Linked DNA regions of Homo sapiens. The protein of the gene in region 1 purifies or fractionates together with the protein of each later gene. This does not show direct contact. Each region holds a gene or a part of one and is shown in the gene's direction. Other genes may lie near its edges.

Region 1 (3,500 bases):
GTAGTATTAATCAGTGGTAATATAGACGACTTGCAATTTGCCTCCTTTCCATATCCTCTGAATTTGGTTGTCCAGGAAGCAAATTTAGATTAAAATAATCTTCTGTAAGTATATGCTTGCTGCCCCAAATACCCAAAACAATAACCCTCATATCCCTAATACTCATCTTTCTCGAATACTTTGCCAATCACATGACTGTAACAGTTTGTACTGTAACAGTTTGTCTTTCCCATCACCAAATCTTGTTATTACTGGTAATGTTTGATGAGCAAGAGAGAAATAACTTCAAATGTTACTGTCTCTTCTTAAGTAGAGCTGTTTGCCCTTCATCTATAAGATAGTATCTGTGTATAGACGTCACTGTTCAGGAGCACTTTTTAGAGGCTGTTACCTTAGCTGCAGATTGGTTTTTGGCAAGTAATAATTTTTAGTTTTTATGTTATGCCACAATAATGTGTAAGTTTTCTATTTTTTTATTTCTTCAAATTCCCTTTACCACAGTTTTCTATTTTTTGTAGAACTATTAGTTTATAGTATTCAGGTTTATTACTCTATTATTTGTCAAACTTACTAGTTTACATTATTACGTTTATAGATTCCATGTCCAATGACATTGGGCATAGAAGCATCGAATTTTGTGTCAAGGCTGGGAGATGGAAACATAAGTGAATACATTTGTGGTAGACTCAAATCCAACTGACTTAGTTAAGTCTTAGGTAGTAACTTCTTCATGGTTATCTCCATTAAGAGGGAAAACTCACTTTTGTACTATTAGGTATTTCTTCTCTCTGAGATGTGAGGGATTGTCTTGCCGAGTTCAAGGGGTCTCTGTTCTCAGGATTATTGGCTTTTTAACTCTCCTTTCTCTCAGCCTTTAGTGACTTTGCAGGCAGTCTTTGCTTATTTAAGCCTCTATGAAAGTGATAGACCTGGTAGTTCAGGTCTTGTTATCCTTAAGATAAGTTATTCCAACACAGTAGAAAAGTATGCTTTTGGTGGGTTCTTCTGACAGGTACTAGACAGTCTATGACAGCTTGTTGTGTTGAATGACAAGCTATTTTCTTTCTTCCTTTTTTTTTTTTTTTGTTGTTGTTGTTGTTTTTCTGAGACGGAGTCTCACTCTGTCGCCCAAGCTGGAGTGCAGTGGTGCGATCTCTGCTCACTGCAACCTCCACCTCCCTGGTTCCAGCAGTTCCCCTGCCTCAGCCTCCCGTGTAGCTGGGATTACAGGTGGACGCCACCACGTCTGGCTAATTTTTTTGTATTTTTAGTAGAGACGGGGTTTCACCGTGTTGGCCAGGATGGTCTCGATCTCCTGACCTCATGATCCGCCCGCCTCAGCCTCCCAGAAGTGCTGGGATTACAGGTGTGAGCCACTGTGCCCAGCCTTCAACACCAAAGTTGTAAATTTCTAAGACCGTCTTAGCTAAAACCATTTTCTGAGAAGTGTGCATGTGTGAAACATAATTTCCTTGAGGAAAAATTTACTAATAAGTCTAATAAACCTCATAGTTTGGATATCCTTGAACCTCTTAAAATGTGGTTTTGTACTTATATTTCATTTTTAGATGCCAACACTATTTGTGGAGTCAGTTTTGGAAGTGCATGGTAAATTTGTTCAGCTTATCAACACTGTTTTGAATGGTGATCAGCATTTTATGAGTGCGTTGGATAAGGTAAGTTTTAAATACATATATACTATATATGTACATAAAACTCTATCATTCTTTAGGCAGTTTCAAGATCAGAATTCTAGTATGAGGTTTCTGATGTAGACATGGAGATTAAGTAATTTTGATATGAAATTCAAAATAGAAATAATATAATTTTTAAATTATTAACTGAATAGTTAAATTGAATGCTTGTAGAATGTCCCGTGATTATGCTATATAAGGGGAATTTTTAATCTGATATGTTCTGGATAGACATGCATAATTTTGCAATTTTTAGTACTGATTTTTTTTCTTTGGCCATAATACTTAGGCTATATTGAATAATATTTGAAAAGAGAATAGATATGTTTTACATGAACTTTTGCATACGTTAAAGGAAAGCTGCTTACAAGATTGTAAGTTTTTTTTTAAGTAACGTTATTTTATCTGTTCAAATTTCGATAATGAGTTACAGAATATCTTGGAATAGCAACAGGATATATAGATATTTTGTAATTAGAGAATAAAGTCAGAGGAGTCTACCATGTTAGGCATGAAAATATTAACAAACTACCGGCAATGCTGTGTTTTATGTGGCGGGGTAATTTTTGGATGTACAGATTATGGCTTATATTGAACTAGCTGTACTTTTTCCCTATGGCTGGTGGTTAATTATGGCGTGTTTTTTTATTCAGGCCCTTACGTCAGTTGTAAATTACAGAGAACCTAAGTCTGTTTGCAAAGCACCTGAACTGGTAAGTTTGGTGGTTGCTGAAAAGTAATCTTATGAAAAGTCAGTATTAGAAAATGAGAACTCAGAATATCAAATTAATTTGGTTTTTGTAGCATTTTTCAGAAAAATAGAAGGAAAATTATCTACATTGTATATAGTTTGGCATTTATGTAAGGAATGCAATATACTATGTGTCTTAAAGAATAACCATTTTACAAAGTTTGGGTTTTAATGTATATCTACTTTGAAATAATTTGCAATACTTTTCATGTAGATTCTGTTACATCTGAAATCTAAAGGAAATCTGATGATAAAGTTTGGGTAACCTTTGAAGGAAACTTGCTTACAAGATTTTTGTAACTTTTTTTTAAAGTACTTGTTCAATGTCAAAAATTATAAAACCACTCGAAACTCACCTAGGTGTTCTTTTAAAAATTTGTATTACTTATATCAGTTGCTTTATTGGTCAATAAGTGATGATTTGATATTTGACTTGTTCTTTTTAAAAATTTACCTTATGATGTATATTTTATTTAGTTTACATTTATGATTATTACATAAAGCTTTAGAAGCCTGGTGTGGTTGTGCATGCCTGTAGTCCCAACTACTTGGGAGGCTGAGGCAGGAGGATCCTTTGAGCCTAGGAGTTTGAGGCTGCAGTGAGCTATGATCTTGTCCACTGCAATCCAGCCTGGCAACAGAGCAAGACCCGGTCTCTAAAAAAAACAGCAAAAATTCTGTCCGCTGATCTTACCTTGTATCACCACTTTGCCTCCTTTGAGGCGTGATATATACAGAAGCACCCTTTGTAAGATTTATTATCAATTTCTACATGAGCTTGCTAAGTACTGTGACAACTTACTGAAGAAGTCAGCGAAAGGGATGACAGAGAATGAAGTGGAAGACAGGCTCACGAGCTTCATCACAGTGTTCAAATACATTGATGACAAGGACGTCTTTCAAAAGGTATGTTGTGAACAGAAAAGTTTCATTTGTATTTTGGTCAACTTTATTTCTGAATGCTAAATCATTAGAAAGGAAGTAATCTTTTAAAATATTTTTAAATGTAGTTCTACGCAAGAATGCTGGCAAAACGTTTAATTCATGGGTTATCC
Region 2 (3,500 bases), on another chromosome or scaffold:
CCCAGCACTTTGGAAGGCTGAGGCGGGCAGATCACATGAGGTCAGGAGTTCGAGACCAGCCTGGCCAACATGGTGAAACCCTGTCTCTACTAAAAATACAAAAATTAGCCCGGCGTGGTGGCAGGTGCCTGTAATCCCAGCTACCCAGAGGCTGAGGCAGGAGAATCACTTGAACCCGGGAGGCGGAGGCCACAGTGAGCCAAGATCATGACATTGCACTCCAGCCTGGGCCACAGAACAAGATTCCATCTCAAAAAAAAAAAAAAAAAAAAGAGTCACCTAGTTAAGAAGTTAGCTCACCCCCAGTGTTTGACTGCCTGCCCTCTCTACCACACAGTGGCAGAACACAGAGGAGCTTTGTTAGGAAACGGAAATACACTGAATGGAGAGAGTGTGGTAAGTTTGTCTTCTCAGTGGAAGCACCAGCCTCACAGTTAAGTCCATATAGGAGGCCAAGGCAGGCGGATCACCTGAGGTCAAGAGTTCAAGACCAGCCTGGCCAACATAGCTTTCTACTTTCTAGTTTTCTACTAAAACTAGAAAATTAGCTGGGCGTGGTGACGGGCGCCTGTAGTCCCAGCTACTCAGGAGGCTGAGGCAGGAGAATTGCTTGAGCTCAGGAGGTGGAGGTTGGAGTGAGCCGAGACTGTGCCACTGCACTCCAGCCTGGATGACAGAGCGAGACTCCATTTCAAAAAGTAAAAAAAAATTAAAAATTTAAAATTTAATTTTTTTTTTGACGGAATCTCGCTCTGTCGCCCAGGCTGGAGTGCGGTGGCACGGTCTCGGCTCACTGCAAGCTCCGCCTCCCGGGTTCACGCCATTCTCCTGCCTCAGCCCCCCGAGTAGGTGGGACTACAGGCGCCCGCCACCATGCCTGGCTAATTTTTTGTATTTTTTAGTAGAGACGGGGTTTCACCATGTTAGCCAGGATGGTCTCGATCTCCTGACCTCATGATCCACCCGCCTTGGCCTCCCAAAGTGCTGGGATTACAGGCGTGAGCCACCGCGCCCAGCCAAAATAAAATTTTTTACTCCTTAGAAGGACTGGTGCGGTGGCTCTCGGCTGTAATCCCAGCACTTTAGAAGGCAGAAGCGGGCAGATTGCTTGATCTGGGTGGTTCAAGGGCATCATGACAAAACCCTGTCTCTACCCCCTCCAAAATACAAAAAAATAGCCAGGTAGTACACGCCTGTAGTCCCAGCTACTTGGGAGGCTTAGGTGAGAGAATCACTTGCACTCAGGAAGTTGAGGATGCAGTGAGCCATGATCACGCCACTGCACTCCAGCCTGGCCAACAAAGCGAGACTCTGTTTCAAAAAATAAATAAATAAATAAATACAGGAAATGAATATCACTGAATCATTTCATAGTAGGTGCATTTCTTGTATATCTCCTAGGTGTCTAGCATTATGCTAATTATTATAGAAGCTACATGAGGTCTATAAGATATGGCCCCTGGCCTCTAGGAGTTTACAGGGTAGTTGGGAAAATCGAGATATCTGGAACATAATATAAAACAATATCCAATTAAGTGCTTTTTTTATAATCACAGGTTTTGGACCAGAAAAGATGTTAGAGATTGCTGGTCAAACCTCCTTCCTTTCAGGTGAATAATTACTGTGAGGCAGTTCAGCTCCTCTGGTGTTAAAGCCCCAATTATCACTTATCTGCCCTCTCTTGCAGGAGTGAGCCTTAGGGCACAATTTCCAATTCAGTGTTAGAAGGTAGAGGAAGAGTTGGAAAACTCTTTGTAGTTTAGGAAGCACTTTCACGTCAATTATATCATTTATGCCCCTACAAACAGCCCCAAGAGGCAGGTATTATTATAACCGCTTTATAGGTGAGAAACTTGAGTCAATTCCTTCTCCAAAATTACAGTTAGGTCCCCATGCAGGAATAGGGAAAATGGATAGATGCTAGTAATTTAGGGACAATCTCCACTACCTGTCACTTACTTGCTAGTTTTATTATTTTTTATTTTTGAATGTATCTCTGTTTTTTAAAATCACCTGTTAAAGTGGAAGTATTCTCAGAGGAGCTGAAGTTTATCAGCTTTCCTTGGACTTCTCAGAGAGCTTCTTAGTGGAAGGCCAACTGAAGAACCCCATTAGAAGGAGAGAAAGAAGGAAGAAAAAGATCATCACATAGAAAAGGGAAGAGTGTCAAAGACAAATGATAACTGCATGACCAAGGAATTTGATATCACAGTGAAAGAGGAATATTGGATGAGGGCAGAAAGAAAAGAAAGGCAAACAAGGGATGGCAATTGAGAAAACTTGAATGTTTTTGAAGGCAGGAGAAATGAGTTTTCCCATTCTGAAGATAACAGAGACTGAACATGTCATTGTAGCACCATGTACTAAAGTACACTTGGAAGAAAACCCTCTTCCAAGATTCTCCGTATTAGCTGATGTCATTGCTATACTCATCTTTCCTATTTGGGGAGACAAGTTGTCAGGATGGAAAACAACTGTGGTCTTTTCATTCAGAAAACATTGATTAGGTAGACAGAACTGTGTGAATTGCTATGGGGGTAGCAGGGACATAAAATAGTGCCTGCCCTTTGGGAAATTAATAAAATAGAATGGAGCTAAGAGGGACACATCCAGAAAGACAGAGCCATACACAGGCCCATTCATGAAAAGCCACAATCTGTATAACGAAGAACCAAATAAATGAATGGCCCAACAGCAAAAGCCTCCGGATCATTATTGCTGATCCATTATCTTATATAATATGTTAATAAGCATTTTGATGAGAATTGTGAGCATATTTATGAGAAGGAAAGAAATGTTATTTAATTGTTTTTAGAGGTAAGGGCTACTATACATGCAATGTGCATGCACACAACAAACACACACACACACACACACACACACACACACACACACACTCCCCTTAGTCATAAACCTAATTGCTGAATACTATTCCTGGCCAACACACAGAACATGATTTTTGTCAGTCAGGACACCGCACAAACACTTCATCTGCATACCATCCTGGGCACACCCTGGAACTTAGCATGTCATGGCTCTCACCCCATCCACAAATTTGCATTCCCCTCTCTGACCACAGCCTCCTTATTAGTCGCCTCTCCCACTGTCCCACACCCAAAGAACCTGTCATTCAGCCACACCAGAATCCTTCAGGCACCTACCTTCCCAACTTCATGAGAACATGCCCAGGCCCACTGAGTCTCTCATCCAGCCTGGACCCCATGACAGGAGGGTAGCTTCAAATACTCCTCCACTCATGATGATTTCCTTGACCCTGGGAGCTCCTGACATTCTAATTCTCAATTAAAGGTCACACCCACTGCCACCACTTTCTATGCAGCTACTACTGTTCCAGAATCAAAGAACTTTGCCAAAGCGAGGTGCAGAACCACAGAAAACTCACCATTACAAACCTGTGGATTAATGCTTAACAACCCGGACAGGACCCAGGGCTGCCAGAACATTCTTGCAGTCATATTTGTTGGTCTTTTTCTAGAAAC
Region 3 (3,500 bases), on another chromosome or scaffold:
ATGGCTGGGAGGATACATACCAAACTATTAACAGTAATTGGGGCGGAGAGGAAGAATTTCGTTTTTTGTTTTGTTTTGAGATGGAGACTTGCTCTGTTGCCCAGGGTGGAGTGCAGTGGTGCGATCTGGGCTCACTGCAACCTCCACCTTCTTGGTTCAAGCAATTCTCCTGCCTCAGCCTCCCAAGTAGCTGGGATTACAGGCACCCACCACCATGCCCAGCAAGTTTTTTTGTATTTTTAGTAGAGACAGGGTTTCCTCATGTTGGCCAGGCTGGTTTCGAACTCCTGACCTCAAGTGATCCAGCCGCCTTGGCCTCCCAAAGTGCTAGGATTACATTCATGAGCCACCACGCCCGGCCTCATTTTTTACTGTATATATTCATCGTATATATTACTGGTATAAAAATGAACAAAACCGAAAGGAAAAAAGGATAAGAAATTACTCCCTGAAGAATGAAAAAGGCAAAAAGATTAGCAGGAAATTCATCAATGATATTAGGGGAACATTGTTTTTAGGATATTCCCAAAACTTTAGGATTGGATAGGATCCATGGTGTGTATTTTGGCCAGGGCTGTATAGTAATAACTCTGCCCTTTTGTTTCTTTGTATGTTCAACTTATTCTTCTTATTTGTCTCTGTTCTAAAGGTAACTCGGGACCAAATGAAGATGTTTATACAGCAGGAATTTAAGAAAGTTCAGAAAGTGATTGCTGATGAGGAGCAGAAGGCCCTTCATCTAGTGGACATCCAAGAGGCAATGGCCACAGCTCATGTGACTGAGATACTGGCAGACATCCAATCCCACATGGATAGGTTGATGACTCAGATGGCCCAAGCCAAGGAACAACTTGATACCTCTAATGAATCAGCTGAGCCAAAGGCAGAGGTAAAGGAAAAGCCCATAATTATTAGTAGCAAGAGAAATAGGAGGAAACTGATGCCATATTTGTTAGACCCCATGTGGTCCCTGAACGTGAATGAATTGAAGTCTAGGTAGAGTATAAGTGTTTCACATGGTGTATAAACCAGTATGGAAGTATTGGCCACTAGTTTACTCAGTGGCTGGGCCTACCAAATTATTTATCCATCATTACTTTAAGGAGTATAGTCAGTGGGGGCAGATACTAATCACAATTAAGAAAGGAAGCCAAAAATTACAGCCAGAGAAGAGGGCAAGCGACAGACCCCAAGTTGTGAAATGAGCCTTTAAAGTCATCATAGACCTGGGCTGAATGAGAACAAATCATGAAGTAGAGCATAAAGCAGGCCAGAATGAAAGATTTTGGACTTACTTTGTACATAGTGAAAAGGTGTCTCAAGCTGGTTGTTATATGGAGCCAGCTGCATAAATTGGAGGCATAACTGCTGGATTAAGAATGGCATGTGCACTAGGGCATTGTAAGATTAAAAAAAAAAAAAAACTATGAATGAAAGACACAAGGTAAATGTTGAATCACTATACAAATGTTAGTTGTCATATTCATTGTTATTTTTAACGGGAATAAAAGGGTCTTAGGCATTTTACCAAACAACATATTTAGGCATTTTGAATCTACTTTGAAAAAATTATTTAAGGTAGCCATTAAAAAAAAAAAGTACAAGCTGGGCTCAGTGGCTCACGCCTGTAATCCCAGCACTTTGGGAGGCTAGGGTGGAAGGATTGCTTGAGTCCAGGAGTTTGAGACCAGCCTGGGCAACATAGTGAGACCCTGTGTCTACAAAAAAAAAATAAAAAAGTAGCAGACATGGTCTCACCTGCCTGTAGTCCCAGCTATTCAGGAGAGGTAGGAAGATTACTTGAGCCCCGGAGGTTGAGGCTGCAGTGAGCTGTGATTGTGCCATTGCACTCCACCCTGTGTGACAGAGTGAGATCCTGTCTCAAAAAAAAAAAAAAACCAAAAAACTTATATTTCAGCCACTAGAGAGAGGCTACTATTAATCAGATTTCATAATTTGACAATTCTAGTGAAGGTAATGCCAGATAGGTTTAGGGTAGGTCCTTCTAGAAAAAAAACATAGGAGAGTCCTGTGGACTTTCTAGGACTGTTGCTGACTCAGCAAGTCCATCCTTAACTGGACGTCCTGCCTTGGCTTGAGAGAGCCTGGCCACAGAATAAACTGGCCAGTAGAAGAGCCAAAGTAATCCAGGAGGCAGGTATTTCCAAGCTATCCTGACAGGAAATGTAAGAAACCATTGAAAGGTATCTGCTATACCCATCCAGGGCTTTTGATTAATTTTCATCAATGTGTGAAAAGAATAACTCTTCTTCTTTTCATTTTATTCTCCCCATAATTGAGAAATTATGTGCCTACATAAGTTTCTAGATAGGCAAGAGAGCACTTTATATTCATCATTTCATTTAATCCTTACGTCAGCATTAACTCCATTTTACAAATGGGATATTTGAGATACAGAGAACTGCAGAGATACTGACCCAATATCATTTAGTCAGTAGAAAATAGAGCCAGGGTTTAGATTTAAGTCTGTGCTATTTCAGTGCCTGTGCTTTCCCCCTACTATAAGACATATGCTAAGCATCCCATCTGTATCTGTGGGAAAATGAGAAGAATCCATGTTCTAGACAGCTTTGCATACCTTTACAATGTCAAGATGGTCAGTTTGTGTCTTAATAAACAAAAGGTTCAACCAGAGTTAATTCAAGGGATCGACAGCATAATTCTGTCCACAGTTCCTATCAAGTTCGACCCCTTCATTTATTCCCTATGTTGATTAGGTTGTTCTTTGAAAAATAAAAATTTAATTTTGGCTAGGCGTGGTGGCTCACGCCTGTAATCCCAGCACTTTGGCAGGCCGAGGTGGGAGGATCACCTGAGGTCAGGAGTTTAAGCCTGCCCTGGCCAACATGGCAAAACCCTGTCTGTACTAAAAATAGAAAAATTAGCTGGGTATGGTGGCGAGCACCTGCAGTCCCAGCTACTTGGGAGGCTGAGGCAGAAGAATCGCTTGAACCCAGGAGGTGGAGGTTGCAGTGAGCCAAGATTGCAGCCACTGCACCCCAGCCTGGGAGACAGAGTGAAACTCCATCTCAAAAAAAAAAGTTTAATTTTGGGGTTTATTCTTCTCTTTTATTTTAATCTATGAATTTAGTCCTTCTCTGACATTAGCTGTCCTTTAAGCACCTCAGCTGTACTATGCTTGTTAACTCTGATGGAATTACTCTTAAAGGGATGCAAGAGCTGACAAGGCTTAAGGACCAGGCTACAGACAAAATGAGCTATTAAAAACAGAGATAGCGTTCAGCCACTAGAGTGTTTACAAAGAGCTGTTATTATTTAATAGCCTCTTGTTCCAGTTAATCTGGTAACTTATTGGTGAGAGCAAATATCTAGTACCTGTCTTTCAGTCATCAGAGGAATTATGTTCTTTTTGTGGTATAGAATTTATCAAAAATCACCTGCATTTTGAATTCAGCCATAAGACCTTCCCTCCAACATTTTATTATAAAATTTTTTAAACATACACCACAGTTGAAAGG
Region 4 (4,049 bases), on another chromosome or scaffold:
AACTAGCGGGGGAAGGAACTTACATCCAGTGTGCACCAGACCACTGTCCTGGAGAGGGACTGGCACAGAACCCAACCTGCATTCTGTCGTTCATGCACTCTTTCTAAGCCGATCAGGCGGTCTCCCCTGTACACTTGATCGTGGCTTGAGCAGGCAGCTGCCTGGGTTTTAACTGGGAATTGAGAAGGCTGGGGTCCGCTGAGGAGCACGCTGCGAAGGTGCGCGGTCCGCAGACGGCCTCCCGGTGGGTTTTGATCATGAAGACCGATTCCGTAAACTCAGCGCCCACTGTGGGGCCAGGGGGTTCTGCACAAACCAAGGCCCTGCCCCTGCCCTGAGGTGGAGCTACAGGCAGGACAAGTTGTGGCCACCTGCCCCTTGCTGGACTTGTAAGGAAGAGCAGGGTACGGGGAGGGGCGTCTCGAGGCCTTTCCAGCCGTCACTTTGCCGCTGCCCCGGGGGCGGTCGGCCTTGGTCCGGGGTGGTGCCAGGAAGAGGGGCTAAAAACCGTGGAGCGCGCCCCGGCCCGATGGCTCACGCCTGTAATCCCAGCACTTTGGGAGGCCAAGGTGAGCGGATCACGAGGTCAAGAGATCGAGACCATCCTGGCGAAACCCCGTCTCTACTAAAAAATACAAAAAATTAGCCGGGCGTGGTGGCGGGCGCCTGTAGTCCCAGCTACTCAGGAGTCTGACGCAGGAGAATCGCTTGAACCCGGGAGGCGGAGGTTGCAGTGAGCCGAGATCGCGCCACTGCACACAAGTCTGGGTGACAGCGAGACTCCGTCTCAAAAAAAAAAAAAAAAAAAAAAAAGACCGCGGAGCGCGTGGCGCCTCCCTGCCCTAGGGACTAGGGGCGGTAAAGAGAGGAGGCTGCGAGGTCGCTGGACGGCTGGGTCATGGCGAAGGTAACGGGAAAGCTCCCGACCGGACCCAGCTGCCTCATCCCCACACCCTGCAAGGCCAGGCGGCCCGGCGGCCCTCCAGCGGCGCGCGGCTCCCGGAACCCAGCGCCTCAGTCCTCGCTTGGCCTTGGACGCCCTCGCGCGGAGGCCTCGGGGCACGGCCGGGCGCAACAAGCCCCGCCCTACCGTTGCAATTGGTTCTCGAGCTAAGGCCTAGGCGTTTGATTGGTCAGCTTTGGCGAGAAGGCGGGACTAGGGCGACAGCCGCGGACGCCGAGCGGCCAGATCAGGGACGCGGGGCGGGCCCTGCGTCCGCCCCTCCCGCCGAGGCTGAGCCTGAGACCCGGGGCGGATCGACTGACGCCGGGGCCGGGATGGCGACGCCTCGGCCCTGCGCGGACGGGCCCTGCTGCTCGCATCCCAGCGCGGTGCTCGGCGTACAGCAGACGCTGGAGGAGATGGACTTCGAGAGGGGTGAGGCTGCCGCGCGGCCCTCGTGGTTCTCACCAGGCCCCGGCCCAAGGAGGAGGCGTGGGGCCAAGGAGAGGCGGATGAACGGGGCCCCGAGAGCTTGGGGCTTGGGGCTTGGGGCCTGGTGCGGGAAGGCGGGCGGGACCCACGGTTCCCGTGTACTGAGAGCCTCCCAGGGCCCCGCACGAGCTCGGCCAGGAGACACCTGTCCCGCGGGCGGCGGGGAAGCGGAAGCACTGGTTTCCGTAACCCTCCCGAGTAGCGGGGGACGACCTCCCCTGGGAGACACAAGCCTGCTCAGGTGTTTGAGAGAGGGCCCGGGGAGCAGAATCTGCACCAGGGGCATTGCACCCAACCTGAGGGGCATGGAGCTGCAGGCCTGGGGGCTGCGCGGTGAAGGAGAGCAGTGGCCTTTGTTTAGCCCCGGGTGCCAGGCAGCCTGCATGCTTTAAAGATGGCAAGAGCTTCGCACGGGCAGCCTTCGAGGCAGGGCACAGTATCTCATCTGTGGGACCCAGAGAGGTAACACGTTTGGCCCAGATTATACAGAGATTATGGTGCCAATAGGAACAGAGGAAGGCGGGAAACCAGGGTGCTTCTTGTGAGCGTTGGGAACCACTGTGCTGTGTCATCTGCCCTTGCGGATGCAGCCCTCGATTGCCACTGCTGTGTAAGCATTCTCATGGAACTCTTCCTTTACCGTGGTTCTGGCACCTGCCTACTTCCCTCCGCCCCTCCTACCGCTGTCCTCTGCACTGCTGAAGTGGTTGCCTCAGAGGGTCTTTCTGCTTCCACGCTTGCCTTCCTACAGGGTTTTCTACTCTCACATAGCAGCCAGAGCGGCTTTTTGAAAATTAGAAATCACATCATTCCCTGTTATGGCCTACAAAGCTCTGTAGACCCACCCCTGCCGGTTCTACTTCTCCTCCTCATTTTATTTCTCATGCTTTTCTTCCCCCAATCACTACGCCGCAGCCACACTGGTCTTGTTTTGGTGTCTCAAATATGCAAGACCTTTTCCTGAGTTAAGGCCGTTGGACTTGCTGTCCCATCTCCTTAGAATGAACTTCCTACAACCGTTAAGCTAGCTGATGCTTTTCTTCAGATCCCAGCTCCAATGTCATCTCCTCAGAGACCCTCCCTAAACACCCCAGTTCTCAACTGGGGGCAGTTCTGCCCTTTAAGGGACTTTGAATATCTGGAGACATTTTGGGTTGTCACAATCAGGAGGGTGCTACAGGCGTGTAGTAGGTAGAGATGAGAGATGCTGTATACATGGTACAATGCACAGGACAGCTCGCTACAATAATCATCCGGCCCGTAAGTGTCAATTGTGCTGTTAAGAAGTAAACATTGCCTTATCCAAAGTTAGGCCAGTTACTCTGATGTATCCATCATCTTGCTTTTTTTTTTTTTTTTTTTGAGATGGAGTCTCCCTCTTTTGTCCAGGCTGGCGTGCAGTAGCGCAATCTCGGCTCACTGCAGCCTCCGCCTCCTGGGTTCAAGCGATTCTCCTATTCTCCTGAGTAGCTGAGATTACAGGCGTGTGCCACGACGCCCGGCTAGTTTTTGTATTTTTAGTAGAGACCGGGGTTTCACCATATTGGTCAGGCTGATCTCGGAACTCCTGACCTCATGATCTGCCCGCTTTGACCTCCCAAAGTGCTAGGATTACAGGCGTGAGCCACCGCACCCGGCATCTTGCTTTCATAAAAAACAATTTTTACCGCAAACAATTTCCTCATTTTTTTGTGCAAACAAATACATTCTTTAAAACATTAATGGGAAGAGTGTATTTGATAAGCCAGTTTTAGCTACTGTTGTCACAAATAAAAGAAACTGTGAGATTTGTTAATCCGCTTCACTACAGTAACTCTTTGTTGTTGTTGTTGTTGTTTTGTTGTTGTTGTTGTTGTTGAGTCGGAGTCTGGCTCTGTCCCCAGGCTTTAGTGGCGCAATCTCGGCTCACTGCAAGCTCCACCTCCCAGGTTCACGCCATTCTCCTGCCTCAGCCTCCCAAGTAGCTGGGACTACAGGCGCCCGCCACCATGCCCGGCTAATTTTGTTTTGTATTTTTAGTAGAGATGAGGTTTCACCATGTTAGCCAGGATGGTCTTGATCTCCTGACCTCGTGATCCGCACAGTAATATATCTTTTTTTTTTTTTTTGAGACGGAGTCTCGCTCTGTCGCCCAGGCTGGAGTGCAGTGGTGCGATCTTGGCTCACGGCAACCTCTGCCTCCTGGGTTCACGCGATTCTTCTGCCTCAGCCCCCTGAGTAGCTGGGACTACAGGCGCGTGCCACCAAGCCCAGCTAATTTTTGTATTTTTAGTAGAGACGGGGTTTTACTCTGTTAGCCAGGATGGTCTCGATCTCCTGACCTCGTGATCCACCCGCCTCGGCCTCCCAAAGTGCTGGGATTACAGGCGTGAGCCACTGCGCCTGGCCAATATTTTTCTATTTATCATTTTGTACTACATTTTGGGTGAATTCCAAATCACTAATTCTCTTTGACTAGGTCTGCAGTACTCTTTGACCCATCTATTGTTGTTGTTTTGTTTCAATGAGTCTGTTTTTTAATTTATCAACTTTCCTGTTTCAGATCTGGCTGTTTTGTTTTTCCTAATGTTCTGTTGATTTGTGGATTCTATCCCTTTGTCTCTGTGAACACCTT

The links.
Region 2: the proteins of CUL2 (region 1) and CSTA purify together in Homo sapiens (affinity purification with mass spectrometry; 2 studies listed by BioGRID and IntAct, with this or other methods). This does not show direct contact.
Region 3: the proteins of CUL2 (region 1) and TRIM44 purify together in Homo sapiens (affinity purification with mass spectrometry; 3 studies listed by BioGRID and IntAct, with this or other methods). This does not show direct contact.
Region 4: the proteins of CUL2 (region 1) and ANKRD39 purify together in Homo sapiens (affinity purification with mass spectrometry; 2 studies listed by BioGRID and IntAct, with this or other methods). This does not show direct contact.

What each region holds. Positions count from the first base shown.
Region 1 is NC_000010.11:35,031,342-35,034,841, reverse strand, and holds part of CUL2 (cullin-2), read left to right. Parts: intron 1-1,568; coding exon 1,569-1,676; intron 1,677-2,347; coding exon 2,348-2,407; intron 2,408-3,222; coding exon 3,223-3,351; intron 3,352-3,455; coding exon 3,456-3,500.
Region 2 is NC_000003.12:122,328,248-122,331,747, forward strand, and holds part of CSTA (cystatin-A), read left to right. Parts: intron 1-3,500. UniProt on the Homo sapiens protein: This is an intracellular thiol proteinase inhibitor. Has an important role in desmosome-mediated cell-cell adhesion in the lower levels of the epidermis.
Region 3 is NC_000011.10:35,725,275-35,728,774, forward strand, and holds part of TRIM44 (tripartite motif-containing protein 44), read left to right. Parts: intron 1-649; coding exon 650-889; intron 890-3,500. UniProt on the Homo sapiens protein: May play a role in the process of differentiation and maturation of neuronal cells. May regulate the activity of TRIM17. Is a negative regulator of PAX6 expression.
Region 4 is NC_000002.12:96,855,217-96,859,265, reverse strand, and holds the start of ANKRD39 (ankyrin repeat domain-containing protein 39), read left to right. Parts: upstream 1-1,249; 5' UTR 1,250-1,278; coding exon 1,279-1,378; intron 1,379-4,049.